Linked DNA regions of Homo sapiens: region 1 is linked to region 2. Evidence: fine-mapped expression QTL. Tissue or cell type: whole blood. Region 2 holds a variant in brackets; the other region holds the start of a gene. All regions are shown on one strand. Distances are from middle to middle.

Region 1 (8,175 bases), 86 kb after region 2:
GTAGAACCAAAATGTTTGGCTTAGAAGAAAAGTAGATACAGGTATATAAAAATGAGAAGGTTGAGTAGAATCCTAGTCTTACTTCCTTTTTTTTTTTGAGACGGAGTTTCGCTTTTGTTGCCCAGAATGGAGTGCAATGGCACTGCGACCTCCGCCTCCTGGGTTCAAGCGATTCTCCTGCCTCAGCCTCCCTAGTAGTGGGGATTACAGGCATGCACCACCATGCCCAGCTAATTTTTGTATTTTTAGTAGAGATGAGGTTTCACTGTTGTCCAGGCTGGTCTCAAACTCCTGACCTCAGGCGATCCACCTGCCTCAGCCTCCCAAAGTGCCGGGATTGTGAGCGACCGCACCTAGCTTGTTTTTTGTTTTTGTTTTTGTTTTTTTGAGACGGAGTCTCGCTCCGTGTCGCCCAGGCTACAGTGCAACGGAGCGATCTCCACTCACTGCAAGCTCCGCCTCCCGGGTTCACGCCATTCTCCTGCCTCAGCCTCCCGAGTAGCTGGGACTACAGGCATCCGCCACCACGCCCAGCTAATTTTTTGCGTTTTTAGTAGAGACGGGATTTCACCATGTTAGCCAGGATGGTCTCGATCTCCTGACCTCATGATCCGCCCGCCTCGGCCTCCCAAAGTGCTGGGATTACAGGTGTGAGCCACCACGCTCGGCTTTTTTTTTTTTTTTTTTTTAAAGAGACAGAGTAGTGCAGTGAAGTGATCATGGCTCACTGTAGCCTCGACCTCCCAGGCTCACAGGTTCGTACCATCTTAGCCTCAGGAGCAGCTACGATTACAGGCCCATCCTAGCATGCCCAGCTTCATTGGCTACTTTTGAAGGATATTAGCGAAACAATTCATTATGTGAAACCTAGTAAATAATGGAGAAGAATTAAGCATTTATCCTCCCTTTTCTGTAAGAGATACCTCAAGATAACCAAATAGTGGAGGCATGAAAAATTATCTTTATAAAAATATTCTATTTAATAAAAGAAGTTATAGAATTCAAATATCAATATATTCAATGCTTGCTGAAATGACTGTAGGCACTGACAATCAAGGGCTGCGAACAAAGACTACTAATCATTTCTGCCTACTTACCTAAGAAGTTTGCTTGACAAAAGTAAAGCTGAATCTGATCATACCTTTAGATCTAACCACCAGTTTTCAGTAAATTCTGTGAAACTATGCCACAGAGTAAAATTGAGACTGTGCATAACTCCACATGACAAACTACCAGGTTTCATCCATAAATAAATTACAAGAGAAAACTAAATATGGAGGGGAAACTATCAATTAAAATGAGTCACACTGTATAGATAGCATGTGGATCGATTGAAATTGTTAAGAAAAAAAATGAGAATTCTGACAATTTTAACACTGGCTGGATATTTGAAAGTATTAAGGAATTATTCATTTTCTGTGATAGTGGTACTCATGTTTACCTTTTGTTTAAGTCTTTAAGATATACATATTGAACTATTTAACGGTTAAAGGATATCTAGGACTGCGGGGATATGATGAAGCAAGATTGACTGTTGAAACTGGTTGAGAAAAGGGGTTTATACTATTCTCTCTACATATGTGTATATGTTAAGAGGTAAACATGGAAGGAAAGAAAGGAAGGGCAGTCAATCTAACTCTAAGTTTCAAGCAATAAGTAAATATTTTGTTATCTTTCAAAGCATTTCAGTATTTACTTTTCTTATTCAATTCAAAGACTATAAGAACTAAAAACTAAAAATCATGTAAATAAACAGTTTTTATGGCAAAATCAGTAACACAAAACTGAACACCAAACAAAACCTTCTCAGTATATCAGATAACATCAAAAGAATTAAGGGGAAAAATGACCAGCTTGTACGAAGTATATTTTAGAAGGAAAACTATCTCACAATTCGGGGACTGGCTAGAGTTTAGACTCACATCACTCAGCGACTCTCCGAAACTTTAAAACCTAAAGACACCACAAGTAGAAAACTAACAAATCATACCAGCTGTCCATACCATTGTAAACCACATCGAAACTCTGAAAAGCAGTTTTGACTGCCCAAATCATCCACTTCCTGAAAAGACAACTTTACTATTCTAGTTTTCTCCACTGTCAAAATCAAAGGAGTATATTAAAATTTTAACGTAGGCCAGGCGCGGTGGCTCACGCCTGTAATCCCAGCACTTTTGGAGGCCTAGGCGGACGGATCACGAGGTCAAGAGACTGAGACCATCCTGGCCAACATGGTGAAACCCCGTCTCTACTAAAAATACAAAAATTAGCTGGGCGTGGTGGCGCGCGCCTGTAGTCCCAGCTACTCGGGAGGCTGAGGTAGGAGAATTGCTTGAACCTGGGAGGCGGAGATTGCAGTGACTGGAGATCGCGCCACTGTACTCCAGCCTGGCGACAGAGCGAGACTCCGTCTCAAAAAAAAAAGGTATCATCGCGGGCCTTTGTCCATTCAAGGCTCCAAAGTTTACAAACTCACTTTCATACAATTCACACCCTCTGCCTGAAATGCCCTCCTCTCTCTGGTGCCTGTTGAACTCCTACTCATCCACTCCAAGCTTGTTTTCACTAGGCGCCTCTACTCATAGACACAGTCGACCTATCAGCATTCTATTTCCTATCCCCATTAAGATCTCAGTCAATTTTTCACACAAAAAATCTTTCTTTAACTTACCAGTAATGCATACAGCTATCAGCTATGTCTTTGGTCTTTGGAGATATGACAATTGCTTTTTGTCTTTCTAAACATAAATTATGCTCAAACCAACAACAGTTTCAGGCGAACCAAAATACGTTTTTCAAGGTGGGTATGCATAAAGTGAATGCAAATTACCTCCCAACTATCTTGAGCCATTACAAGAGCAAAGATAAAAGTCATCCTAACAGGGAAAGGCCCTCTGACATCTCCCAAAAAACGAAAATAAAAGATTAAGAAAAAAGAAAAGAGAGGGAGGGCAAAGGTGACCAACAGCCCCATCGCTGATAAAGTTCCACGATTATCTCTCGAGCGTCCGTCGGCAGATATGGCTTTTCTCTTTTGGCAGAAGCCGTCGTTTTTAAATACGAGAGCCGACAGATGCGTCCGTACACAAACCTTGCAGCCACCAGCGCTGCGGACCGCGGAACCGGTCTCACAAGCAGGATGCTGACCAGCGTCCAGCCAGGGTCGTCCTCCTCCGCCCCCACCCCTGCAGCCCACAAGCCGGCCAGGAACGAGCGGCCCGGGAAAAGCCTAGTCCCCGGGGTCCTATCCCGATGAAAGATCTGCGGCGCCCTCGCTCCCCGGCTCGGCCCAGGCCGAAGGCCCCGCGGGGACCCCTCCAAGACGCCCTCGGCGCCGCAGCGGCCTCCCCGCCCCCGAGGCTGCCCGGGCCGCCGCAGGCCCCGCGGCCCCCGCCCGCCGCAACCGCGGCCCAGTTCCCCGCGCCCCCGCCGCCGCCTCAGCCCGAACCGGGCCCCCGCCGCCCCCGCTAGCTAGCCTCACCTCAGAAGCGAATCGTGGGCAGCGCGCGGGATTCCGGGGTCCCAGTGCGGCCACCGCCCGTCGGCTCCGGCTCCGGCTCCGCCCCCGTCCCCTGGCCCGCAGCAGCGGCCCGCCAGGCCTCTCCGCCCCTCAGCCCCTCCGCTCGCCCCCACCGCCCGACCTGGGTGCGGCCTGCGGCGCTGCAGCCCAACAACGCGCCGTCCCATAGGCCAAGCCGCGCAGCACTGCCGAGCAACGTACCCTGCGATTGGCGGGACCCATGAGGGGCGGGTCCCCTGCGGGCAGGGCGATTGGACTCGCCAGGCCCGCCTCGGGGCGACCCCGCCGGGGCCTGCGGAGGCCCAGGGTCCCGCGCGGAGTACACCCCGGCCGGCAGCTTCGGGCGCCAGGTCATGGCTTCACGGTGGCCAGGTAGACTGCGGCGAGCCCCTGCCGGGTCCGCTGGACACGGTTTCATTGTGATTGACCTCCGCCGGAGGGGCTGTCGGAGCCCAGGGACCCTGCCCTCCCGCCGCCGCCCAGCGCACTCCCCCAGCAGACGGGCCCTGCCCCGCGTAGCCCCGCCTTGTGCAGTCCCCAGGCCGAGTTTTGGGGCCCGGGTGGGGTCAAGGCAGCAGGGCCTGTGGGCCCCGATAAGGCTCCACAGAGGACAACTGCCTGGCCCCCGGGCCCGGCCTGCGGGTGCTGAGGAGACCAGCGAGCACCAGCCACCTCCGCACGACCAGGGAGTGAGCCTGCGGGGCTTTGGCAGGACCAGCCTCAGACCAGCACCTTCCCGCACACTGTCCCTCCTGCTGGCGCATCTGACACCCAAAAAAACAAGCAGCGAGACAAATGGGCACGGCTGCTTGTCCTCTTGACACCCATAGAAAGCTTAGGTCCAGAGCTGGGCAGTGGCAGAAGAGTGTGGAATCCAGACCTCCCTGCTCAGCAGGAGCCTCTGTGACATTGCCCCAACAAGGGTCAGGGATACTGTCTGGATGGAAGCCAGCGACCCCTGTTCTAACCATTTCTGTTGGACGTTGGCTTTTCCAAGACGATTTTTCTGACAAGATCACAATTCTGTCTCATTCACTTCTGCTTCCCATAGTTAATCACTAGGGAAACGCAAATCAAAACCACTGTGGGATACCACTTAACATTCATTAGGATGGCAGTTGAAGAAGCAGGGAGTTGGGCGCAGTGGCTTCAGCCTAAAATCCCAGCACTTAGGGAGGCAGAAACAGGAGGATAGCCTGAGCCCAGGAGTTGGCAGACTTGACTGGACAACATAAGGAGACCCTGTTCTCTACAAAAACGAGAAGAAAACAAAAAGTTTCAAGGGGGGAGAAGGAGGAAGAAGAGGAAAAAAAGAAAATAAGTGTTGGCAAAGATGCGGAGAAATTGGAACCCTTTGTGCATCGCTGACGGGAATGTAAAATGGTGTGGCTGCTGTGGAAAACCGTAGAGTGGTTCCTCAAAAAATTAAACATAATTACCACATAATCCAGCAATTCCACTTCTGGATATATACCCCAAAGAAATGAAAACAGCTATTTGTACCATGTTCATAGCAGCATTATGCAGAGAAGGAAATTCTATTTATTGGGGTTTTGTGCCTTTTTTTTTTTTTTTTTTTTTTTTTTGGAGTCAGGGTCTCTGTCGCCCAGGCTGCAGTGCAGTGTTGCAACCATGGCTCACTGCAGCCTTGACCTCCTAGGCTCAAGGGATCCTCCTGCCTCAGCCTCCCAAGTAGCTGGGACTACCAGCACGTGCCAACATGCCTGGCTAATTTTTGTTATTTTTTGTAGAGACGGGATCTCACTATGTTGCCAGGGCTGGTCTCAAACTCCTAGGCTCAAGCAATCTTCCCAAATCCAAACTCAGCCTCCCAAAGTGCTGGGATTACAGGCATAAACCCATAAACCACGATGCCTGGCCAAAAGAAAGGAAATTCTGACGCATGCTACAACATGGATGAACACTGAAGACATGCTATGTGAAATAACCCAATCACAAAAAGATAAATGTATGATTCCACTTGTATGAGGTGTCTAGAGTAGTCAAATTCAGAGAGACAGGAGGTAGAATGGTGGTTGCAAAGGGCTGGAGGAATGGGGATTTAGTGTTTAATGGGTACAGAGTTTAAGCTTGGGGTGATGAAAAAGTTCTGGAGATGGATGGTGGTGATGACTGAACAATAATATGAATATTCGCAAAGCCACAGAACTGTACACTTTAAAATAATTAAAATGATAAACTTTATAATATGAAAATTTTATCATAATAAAACAATTTTAAAGCTATTAAAATATTCCTTCCTTTTCCAACTACAAAAAAGTAAAAAGGTCCAGGCGTGGTGGCTCTTGCCTGTAATCCTAGCAATTTGGGAGGCCAAGGCGGGAGGATTGCCTGAGCTCAGGAGTTAAGAGATCAACATGGACAACATGGCAGAACACTGTCTCTACTAAAAATACAAGAAATTAGCTGGGTCTGGTGGCAGGCACCTGTAATTCCAGCTACTCAGGAGGCTGAGGCACAAGAATTGCTTGAACCCAGGAGATGGAGGTTGCAATGAGCCAAGATGGCGCCACTGCACTCCAGCCTGGGTGACAGAGACTCTGCCTCCAAAAAAAAAAAAACAAAAAAACAAATACGGTCTTAGGTGAGAGTTTTAAAATACATTGAGTTAGAATTAGATATATACAACAATAATATCAAGTAATGAGGGAGACCAATGAAAGTCACCTGAGGTCCTTATGTTGTCCAGGAGGAGGATAAAAGTATTTATTAGTTAACTCTAGACTTCAGTAAGAATAGAGAGTGTTTAACTTTCTAACTAGGAGAAGGGGGGAAATGAAATGATTTGTTTTAAGTTGCTCAATCTCAAAGAAGGGGAAAAGGAGAGAAAAGGGAGGAAGAAAACACAAACACAAGTGAGACAATATGTAGCATAAAATAAGATGGTAGATTTAATTACATTAAATACACAATGGACAAAATGCTCCAGTTAAAAGACAAGGTGTGTTTTATATGCTATTAACAAAAAAAAAAATGAAATTAAAAATACACAATTTACAATAGACTAAAAGAAACATAAAATATTTACAAATCAAACTTAAGATAAGCAAGACCACAATGGACAAAAATATAAAATCCTATTGGTAAACCTTAAAGAAGACCCAAATGGAAAGAGAGGTAAACCATGTTCATGAATCAGAAAACTCAATATTGTAAAGACGTCAATTTTCCCAAAACTGATTGATAGCTATAATAAATTCCCAAACTATCAAGTGCATCATTGTTGTTGGAATTGACAAGCTGATTTTAAAACTTATATGGGAGAAAAACCTTACATGAAAATACAAAGAGCCAGAATAGTCAAGACACTCTCAAAGAAGAAAAATAAGGTGGAAAAGACTTACTTTATCAGATCTCAATACATAATTGATAATAATGAAGACAGCTTGATATTGGCACAAGAACAGACAGACTAATGGAACAGAGGAAAGAATCCAACAACAGATCTACATATGTCATATGTGGACATATGACAGAGGTGGCATTGCAGATGGGCGCAGAAAGTTAGATTACAAACAATGATAGGACAGGTGTGTAACCCTATGGAGAGAAAAAAATGAAAGTGAATCCTTACCTCACACCATATGCAAAAAACCAAATCTAGGTGAATTAAAGGCCTAAATATGAAATTTACATTTATAAGGATTTCAGAATATAATCTAAGAGACTATCTTCATGACCTTGGAGTGGAAATAATTTCAGTGGTTTTCTTTTTTTTTTTTTTTTTTTTGGTTTTTTTTGAGATAGGGTCTCACTCTGTCTCACAGGCTGAAGTGCAGTGGCACAATCACAGCTCACTGCAGCCTTGACCTTCTGGGCTCAAGCAATCCTCTCACCCCAGCCACCTGAGTAGCTGGGACTACAGGCACGCACCACCATGTCCAGCTAATTTTTGTATTTTTTGTAGAGATGGTGTTTCGCCATGTTGTCCAGGTTGGTCTCAAACTCCTGAGCTCAAGTAATCCTCCTGCCTCTGCCCCCAAAGTGCTGGCATTACAGGTGTGAGCCACTGTACCCAGCCTGGAAAGAATTTCTTAAGCCACAAAAAGCACTAACCAAAATGAAAACACTGATCAATTCAACTGCATTAAAAATAAGAACTGGCATGCACAGTGGCTCATGCCTGTACTCCCAGCACTTTGGGAGGTCAAGATGGGAGGCTCATTGAGTCTAGGAGTTTGAGACCAGCTGGGGCATAGTAAGATCCTATCTCTAAAAAAAAAAAAAAAATTATCTGGACATGGAAGTGCGTGACTGTAGTTCCGGCTACTCAGGAGGCTGAGGTGGGAGGACTGTTTAAGCCTAGGAATTGAGGCTGCAATAAGCCAAGATTGTGCCATAACACTCCAGCCTGGGTGACAGAGCAAGACCTTGTCTCAAAAAACCCCCCCCAAAAAAAAAGGACACCATAAACAGTCAAGCCAGAGTTAGAGAAGATATTTGCAATACACATTATGGATAATATCAAGACTATACAAAGAATTATTAGATTAATAAGAAAAAATCTGGTAGCTCACGCCTATAATCCCAACTTTGGGAGGCTGAGGCCAGCAGATCGCTTGAGCTCAAGAGTTTGAGAGCAGCCTGCATAACATGATGAAACCCGTCTCTACTTAAAAATACAAAAAATTAGC
Region 2 (8,175 bases):
CCTGGGTGCCCATGGGGAAGCCTCCTCCCACCCAGCCAGTAGCCCCATGGGGTTAGGTGGGGAGAGGGAGGTGGCTGTGGGCCCCTCATGGCCACTGGTTGGCCCTCATCGCATCCTGGAGGGGGTTCTCGGGGGACCAGTGGCTCCTGTTCCAGAGCCAGGCTTTCAAGGAGCTGCTCCTGGCCCCTAGGAAGGCACTGAGAACGCAAGTGGCCCTCAGATGCTTCGAAATAGGGCAGGGTTGAGGGGTGTTGTCTGGGTTGCCAAGCCCTACTCTGAGCCACTCCTGGCCTTAAGCGACCGCCCCTGCCTCTTGGCCCCTGCCCCTGGGCAGATGGGTGTGGCCACCTCATATGCAGTCTGGGCCACCTCTCGGAGCTTTGCGGCCTTCCTGGCCTCCAGGCTGATTGGGGGCATCAGCAAAGGGAACGTCAGCCTCTCCACGGCCATCGTTGCTGACCTGGGCTCGCCTCTGGCCCGCAGTCAAGGCATGGTAAGTGCACAGGCTGGGCCTTTGGGGTCCTGGTGGTGACTTCTGGGCCTGGGTCTCCCTGTGCAGCTCGGGTGGTCTTTTCCCTAGGCGGTCATTGGGGTGGCCTTCTCACTGGGCTTCACCCTGGGCCCTATGCTCGGAGCCTCCCTGCCCCTGGAAATGGCACCCTGGTTTGCCCTGCTCTTCGCAGCCTCCGACCTGCTGTTCATCTTCTGCTTCCTGCCAGAGACGCTGCCCCTGGAGAAACGGGTAGGGCTGTGGTCTGGGACCCACAGGCCTAGGGGCTGGAGGCTTGATTCCATAGCGATGTAAAGTGCCCCTGTGTGCCAGCCCCAGATGCCAGGGAGGCTGGGCCGCTCTCTTGGTGTTGGGACCCTTGAGGCCACAGTCCGTGGGTTGCCAGGCCAGCAGCCGCTCCTGCAGGCTCTCCAATGCCATCCCCACAGGCGCCCTCTATCGCCCTGGGGTTCCGTGATGCGGCTGATCTGCTCAGCCCCCTGGCCCTGCTGCGCTTCTCGGCTGTCGCTCGTGGCCAGGACCCACCCTCTGGAGACAGTAAGGACTCGACCAACCCAAGCGTGGAGCCTGCTCTCCCCTGGGCTTCCCCGGGCGGCGCCCTTCCCTGCTGTGGTCGCCTTCTCAGCACGCGCCACCTCTCCCCAGGGCTCAGCAGCCTGCGCCGCCTGGGCCTAGTCTACTTCCTCTACCTCTTCCTGTTCTCGGGCCTGGAGTACACGCTGAGCTTCCTCACACACCAGCGCTTCCAGTTCAGTAGGTGGGTCCCCATCTGGCGACGGCCTGCTGTCTCCCTGAAATAACGCCCCTGCTTCAGGGAAGCAACCCCCATCCCCAGGAAGCCTTGGCAGCCACTCTCGCCCTGGCCCTGCCCTGGGTGGCCCTGCCCCGGGTGCCCTGCACTAACACACCCGCTCCCAGCCTACAGCAGGGGAAGATGTTTTTCCTCATCGGCCTCACCATGGCCACCATCCAGGGTGCCTATGCCCGGCGGATCCACCCTGGCGGGGAAGTTGCTGCCGTGAAGCGGGTAGGGGGCTCCCTCCAAAGCGGGTGGCAGGCAGTCCCCTGAGTCCTGCAGGGCACGGGCTGTGCTGAGGCTGCCGTGCCCACCTGCAGGCCCTCCTGCTGCTGGTGCCCGCCTTCCTCCTCATCGGCTGGGGACGTTCTCTGCCCGTGCTGGGCCTGGGGCTGCTGCTCTACTCCTTTGGTGAGTGGCCCTGCCCTGGCAGGGGATCCGATGGGCAGCAGGGGCTGGGTGATGCACCCTCCCCTGGGCTGACGGGCACCTCCTCGATGTCTCCCACCAGCCGCCGCCGTTGTGGTGCCCTGCCTGTCCTCCGTGGTCGCTGGCTATGGTGAGCCCCCTTCCCTCGGCCGAAGCCACCTGAGCGGGAGAAGGGCAGTGGTGCCTGACTGTGCCTCTTCCCACAGGCTCACCAGGGCAGAAGGGCACGGTCATGGGTACACTGCGCAGCCTAGGTGCTCTGGCCAGGGCCGCGGGGCCCCTGGTGGCCGCTTCAGGTGAGGGCGCGGGATGGTGCTGGGGCAGGCTGGGGGCCAAGCACCTGCCCTCGCCTCCCAAGTGCCAGCCCCCTCGGGGACTGGGTGACGCCACCGTCTCTCCGCAGTGTACTGGCTGGCCGGGGCCCAGGCCTGCTTCACCACGTGGTCCGGGCTCTTTTTGCTCCCCTTCTTCCTCCTGCAGAAGCTGAGTTACCCGGCACAGACGCTCAAGGCTGAGTAGCTGAGCCACTGTGCCCAGGCTGTGGGCACCAGGCAGAGTGGGAGCCTAGGTCAGGCCCCTGCCCACTGCCTGACCCCCACCCCCCGCCAGTCCAGGGAGACCCTGTGGGTGGGGGCCGGCCCCTAAGCAGGAAGCTCAGGCAGCTCCTCCAGACTTACTTACTCCTTCAGTGACTCCGAGCTGCAGCACTCCAAGGCTGTCAGGGCTTCTGTTTGTTTTTTAAACTATGCACCAGGTTTCTGATGATGAAATAAAGCACCTGTTTGTTTTATACCAAGTGCCTTTCGCCATATATAGCCGTGCTTCTACCCACACCAGGAAAGGCAGCTGGAGCTGAATGAATGGCTCCACTGACCGGAAGGGTCCAAGGCTCTTTGAGACCCTCAGTTTCCCCCTCTGCACAGTGGCAGCCTGGGGACTCACTCAGGCAGGCTCCTCCAAGGCTGGGGTCAGCCCTGGCCAGGTGGTATCTGGCAGTGTGCCCCGCACCCTGGCAGGATGTCCCCAGCACAGAGCCCTCCCCATCAAACATGAGCACACAGTGACAGTGAGACTGGGACCATGGGGACAAGGACAGGCCAGCAGTTCCCTGGACACCCTGAGTTCCCGTGGAGAGGGACACCAGGAGTGCTGGGTGGCACGTCCTGCCGCACGCGTGGCTGCAGGTGACATTTTATCAAGACATGAACATTAGGAGGTCTCTTTTCAGCACGAGACAAACATGGGAACAAAGAAATTAAAATATAAAACTGCTTCCCAGATTTAGACAAGGAACTTGCTGAAAGAATTTTATTTGTGAGTAAAACATGTTACACTGGAGAAAGGACATTCAGGACCTGTCCTCCCAAGTCGGTGTCCATATATGCAACTATATTTCATGTTGTAATACAAAGGATTAAACTACAAAAGTGAAAATTAAAAGTCATTGCATATGTGGGGTAAAGGAGGGGATAAAGGAAGAGTCCACGGTTAAGGACTTTTCATTCTGCCTTGGCAACAAAACGACACAGAAGAGAGGCAGCACGCTTGCCCGCGTAGCAGGCCCTGCGGCTCAGAGGAAGCTGGAAGCGGCGGTCAGTGCCATGCAGCAGCCTGGTTCTCGCTCGGCTGGCCAATCAGTGGGATCCGAGGTGGCTCGGCCCATCATGCCCAGGATCTGAGCCCACATCTGGCACCAGCTCTACCAAGGGCCTGTTGGGCCCACACAAGCTTGCCTGTACCTAGTCAGGCTGGTACCGGCACCTCCTGAAATGGGTCACCCTCCGGTTCCTGCTCAGCAGCTCTGAGCCCTTTTCCAGCCTCTTGGAGGGAAGTAACAACA[A/G]CAGCATCTGCCGAGGAGCACACGGTTCAGGCTCCATCAATGACGGTGATGTCGAGGGGCCCCAGGGCTACCCTCCACCTCGAGTTACCTTTGATCACAACTAGGGCATCTTTCTGGCTGAGTTAAGGTGAGAACAGTCCCCTGAAGCCTCCCCCAAATAAGTGAAAAGTGCTCTACTGTGGGGTCTGGAAAGAAGAAAGCAAAAAGCAGCCTATTCACGTTCACAGTCGAAAAATGTAAGCTAAATTGTAAACCTGCTCAAAGAAAATTCTAGAAAGGCCTCTTCCCCTCCTGATATACCTTCCCTATGACAGGAATCCAGAGACCCAAGTGAAAAAGAAACTGAGCTCCTGAATCTGATTCTGGTCGAGGGATCGTCGGTCAGACATGCATAGCATCACGTTGGGTGCACACAGGCCCATCTGCCGCTGGGGTTTCCTGCCCAGCATCTGGCCCAGACCTGCCTCTTCAAGGCCGCTGGTGGGCACACGAGTGTTTTCACGGGACCAAGGCTTTGTATATAGATTTAAGTGAGATCACTGAGCAGAGAGAATGCCACATGAAGCCAGGAGTCTGAGTCCGTCACCTGAGACTTTAGGGTGGAGGGGAAGCCAAGCAGAGACAGAATGTGGTGATTTCACAACAGGAGGGACGGCAGGAAAGGTGAGGCTCAGGAGGGTGACGTGCAGCCAAAGCTGCAGAAGCCTTCAGTACCTTCCAGCCAGGACCATGACTTAGTGCCTCCCCCCTGTGGGGAGAGCATGTCTCCCCCAGAAGCTGAGGCTCTGAGAGGACAAGGGGCAGGGTGGGGTGGGGCTGCTGAGCACACACTGGGTCAGCCCGGGGCTACACGGGGCTGGTCACGTGAGGGGACCTCTAGGCGGAGGGCTTGGCTTTTTTGCATTCCATTACACAAGGACAGAGCACAGACGTGGCCGGGGACGCTGGCAGAGCCAGGGTCGCTCCGGACAGGACAGTGTTAGCGCAGGGCTTTCAGGAGTCACTCTTCTTCTTGCTCTTCTTCAGAAAGGACGGGGTACGGAACTTCTTCTTCTTTTTGGACGGGGACTTGCCTGGAGACCCATCGCTGCCAGGGTCCGCGGCGGCCCCCTCCTCGACAGCTGAGGGGGCAGCCTCTTCAGCCACCGGGGCTGGGTCTGGGGCTGGCTCGGGGCTGGCCTCAGTAGGGGCCTCAGTGGGGCTTGGGGGTCTATGGGCTTCCTCCTCCTTCTCTAACATTGGGAAGCCGAGTGCTTCTGAAGGTTCATCAGGGGACAGATCGGGGAGAGTTGGCTTAAAGGTGGCAGCATCACTGTCATCTCCAGTAGTCGGCTCCGGCACAAGGTCTAGTGGGTGAGGTGAGAGATGGGATTAAGGGTTCCTGCCCAGATCTCAAAGGGCAGCTTGAGATGGGGGAGCCCCACACACGAAACTGCCATTTTATTTTACTCTACAGATTTTTACCAAGACAAGAAACTTAAAATATGGTCTACTCTACTGTACGGCTGGATGGAGCTAATATCATAAAATACAGACTCAGTCTCGGGGTAGTTTTTAGCTCCTTCTGGTGGGCAGTGTGCTGACAACACCAGACTCCGTCCCAGGCCTGGGTCCCCCCGCCGGAAAGACAGACTGCAGCACAAGCTGAGGACGACTAAAGGAGCGACGTCCCGCTTTCATTATGTGACGAGAAGTCTGCCCTGTCACCCTAAGGGCATGTACTAGTAGTACTGAAATTAAGTCTAAATTTGGGTCTACAACACCTGGTCTCCCCCAAAACAGCCAGTAGAAAATCGTGCATAACTCCCACAGCACGTTGTGTGACGTCAACATCCAAAAGAACAAAGCCGTTTAGGCTGGAAGTTAATTAAAAGGAAAGAGATGGCCTGTAAGGCAAGGAGTGGGGGCAAAAACTCCACCCAGCATCAGGAGTGGCCATCTGTGAAGGAGCACAGCGGCCCTGAGGACACAGCCTGGGGGCGCCTTCCTTGCACTTACCCGGGCACCCGCTCTGTCCATTCGTAAACGGCCTACAAAGTTACCAGCAACTGACAGGTTAGGCACCACAAGCTGTTTAGTGTTTAAAAATCAAGCCACACATCAGGGCCAGGGGAGTCAGCTGAGTGGTTAGGAGCAGCACAGGAGGCCCAGGCCCCAAACTCTCAGTGCTTTACCTTTGGGAAGCTGGAAGCACCCCCACCCTGCCAGCTGCCCCAGGCTAATTCCAGGCCACGCTTCATGAGAACCGGGAAAGGGCTATGGGCACACAGGCGCCGCTCCCCCTGAGGAGATGGGGCCCGCTCTGCTGGGCATGGTGTGGCTGATGCTAGGACGGAGGCTGCCCCAGGGCACTCGCTCTGGAGAGCTGCCATCATCTGAGTGAACATCACACTGCTTTACGAGGGTCCAATATCCGCTCCTCTGCCCACCTCCTTTGGACCAGCTTCAGCAAAGGTCCAAGGCAATCTGACCCCACACGGCAGGTGGCAGAACCCCACCCTGTCTGAACCGAGGCTGCACTTACATCTGATCCAGTGTGGCAAAACCCTCCCACCAAGCAATCCAAAGAGACCCTCAAAGGCTGGAGGTAGGAACTCCTGAGGCCCAGAGTGCTCCATGGCACCTAGGTGCGTGGAGGTACCCGCTGCCGCTGAAGGCAGCACAGCACTCAGGTGACTGAACCACTTCCAGGAAGGCCTCCAAGGGACTGGGTACAAAAAAGGGGGGCTTCTGTTTTTATTTTAAATAAACAGAAAACAAAACTTAATAAACAACAAAGAAGCAGGAGAATGAGGCAAAGCGCAGGGCACCGGTGGAGAGCGGAGGCAGCACGGTACTTACTAGGGTAACAGGTACTCTCTAGCGCATCCGTCTCCTGCTTGTGACGCAGCCACAGGGAGAAAAAAGCACAAGGAGAGAATCTATGCATTCAGTCACAGCCATCAGGTTACAGAAGAAGAAAGGCAGGGCCACGGGCTTCACGAGAGACATGGATGTACGAGACCGAGGGACAGACACCCGGGATCACACACCACAGACACACGGTGGCTGAGAGGCAGCCGGCGTGTGGCTCACACAGCGGAGGGCACCTCCGAAGGTGGCATCTGCATGACAACACGGCACGAGGAGTGTGCGAGCAATGGGCAACGTGGACACCAGCAACCATGGTGGGTTCCGACCCCCGAGGCCGGCCTTCCTACCTGGTCACAGCTCACATACAAATCTGTTTTGCCTGGAGTTACCCAGGACAGAAGCAATATAGGAGGAGAAAGGTGTCACGTCCTGGCGCTGATGCAAGCACACACTTCCGTGTTGCTGTTAACACGACTCCCGCCACATTCCGCCACAGCGCGCACGAGCCGTGCACCCTCCCACAGTGGCGGCCGCTGCCACCCAGAGCTCACCTTCCTCCAGCTTGATGGGAGTGCTGGGAGGCGGGTGGGGGACCGCAGGCTGGTCTGGAGGACTCTTTTCTTTCTGTTCTCTAGCCTCGTCCAGATTCTCTGCAGAGAAGCAAGAAGGATATGGTAGGAGCTGTGGACGCCACGCCATGAGCCTGTACCTGCCTCCATGGCAGATGGGGCAGCCCGCTCGGCCGCCCTCTGAGAAGGCAGGGCTCTCTCAACCCTTTCCCTGATCCTCTCCAAGAGAGGATAAAGGAAGCTGTGACCTGGGTGTTGACTGATGCGAATTTCAGAGAAACTTAACCAACTTCAGATACAAAACTTATTTCTATTCTTATTCCAAAGAGAGTCTGCCAGAGCCACTTCTGTGATGGACTCGAATGGTATGCCCTGGCCTGTCCCCCGCTGTCCTGTGCGAGTAGGGACCCCTCCCTCCCTGCCTTCTCCCTGCTGAGCAGGTGGCTGAGGGTCCTGAACCCACTCACCACCTTAAGGGACATCACATGAGCATTATTTTGGTTTTAATTCTGTGGTAGGGCATTTTATCCCAATAATTTAAACTTGGCAACTGTAATACGTATTTTTACTTTTTAAAGTGAAAAATGCTAATAAGAACCAGAGGAAAAAATGCAGGAACTAGGATCCTGGATATAGAAAAGGATTCCAAGTCTACTTCTCATTTCGGGGAAAATATGGACCAGCACTATTCTAACTCCTTCCATCTCTGTCTTTATTTCAGAAGTTTAAGATTAATAGCTTAGGATCAGCAGGTCCGTATTTTGAACCAGCAGCTATCATCATCCTTCTGAGCTCCCAGGGCCTCTGCTCCCACCCTAACAGCTGGCTCGCCTCCCCAAGTACCACGTTGGCAGCTACCTTCCAGAAGCCAGGTGTCCATAAAAAGGCCGCCATACCACCTAGCTGAGTGAGCATACAGCCTCAACCGGGAAAAGGTGCTGACCTCTGGCAGCCAGCCTGCATTTTACCTGTGGCACATTCTCCCCTCAGCCCATGCCAAGGGCCAGATCAGACCTCCTGTGGGTTCTCCTGCTGACAGCTCTGTGATCACAGAGCACGGCCAGAGCCTGTCCCCATCCACTCAGCTGCCATCACAGCCCTGCTGAAGGAGCCTCACACATCGGGGGGAAACTCCACATATCTTGTTTGACTTGTTTTTAAAAACAATCCAGGTTAC

What was found. PIP is the estimated chance that this variant, and not a neighbour inherited with it, causes the effect.
Region 1: ADD1 starts here. The variant in region 2 is fine-mapped to the expression of ADD1 in whole blood (TOPMed, PIP above 0.99).

Annotation. Positions count from the first base shown.
Region 1 is chr4:2,839,331-2,847,505 of GRCh38, reverse strand. It overlaps ADD1 (adducin 1), which reads right to left and starts at 3,662. Exons shown (of 16, transcript NM_001354761.2): 1 at 3,482-3,662. It overlaps SH3BP2 (SH3 domain binding protein 2), which reads right to left. Exons shown (of 13, transcript NM_001122681.2): 13 at 6,410-8,175. RefSeq lists silencers at 3,201-3,350, 3,471-3,660, 3,721-4,100, 4,201-4,250 and an enhancer at 4,379-4,890.
Region 2 is chr4:2,924,918-2,933,092 of GRCh38, reverse strand. ADD1 (adducin 1) reads right to left here. Exons shown (of 16, transcript NM_001354761.2): 15 at 6,981-7,079; 16 at 3,031-4,922. The coding sequence ends at 4,570. SLC75A1 (solute carrier family 75 member 1) reads left to right here. Exons shown (of 13, transcript NM_001146069.2): 5 at 335-493; 6 at 581-742; 7 at 940-1,048; 8 at 1,157-1,268; 9 at 1,430-1,538; 10 at 1,628-1,718; 11 at 1,819-1,866; 12 at 1,943-2,032; 13 at 2,140-2,526. The coding sequence ends at 2,255. Among named protein-coding and RNA genes, the nearest start is that of SLC75A1, 5.8 kb to the left of the region's middle. RefSeq lists enhancers at 1-27, 748-797, 1,218-1,287, 6,428-6,943. The variant A/G (reference allele first, on the strand shown) is at 3,577.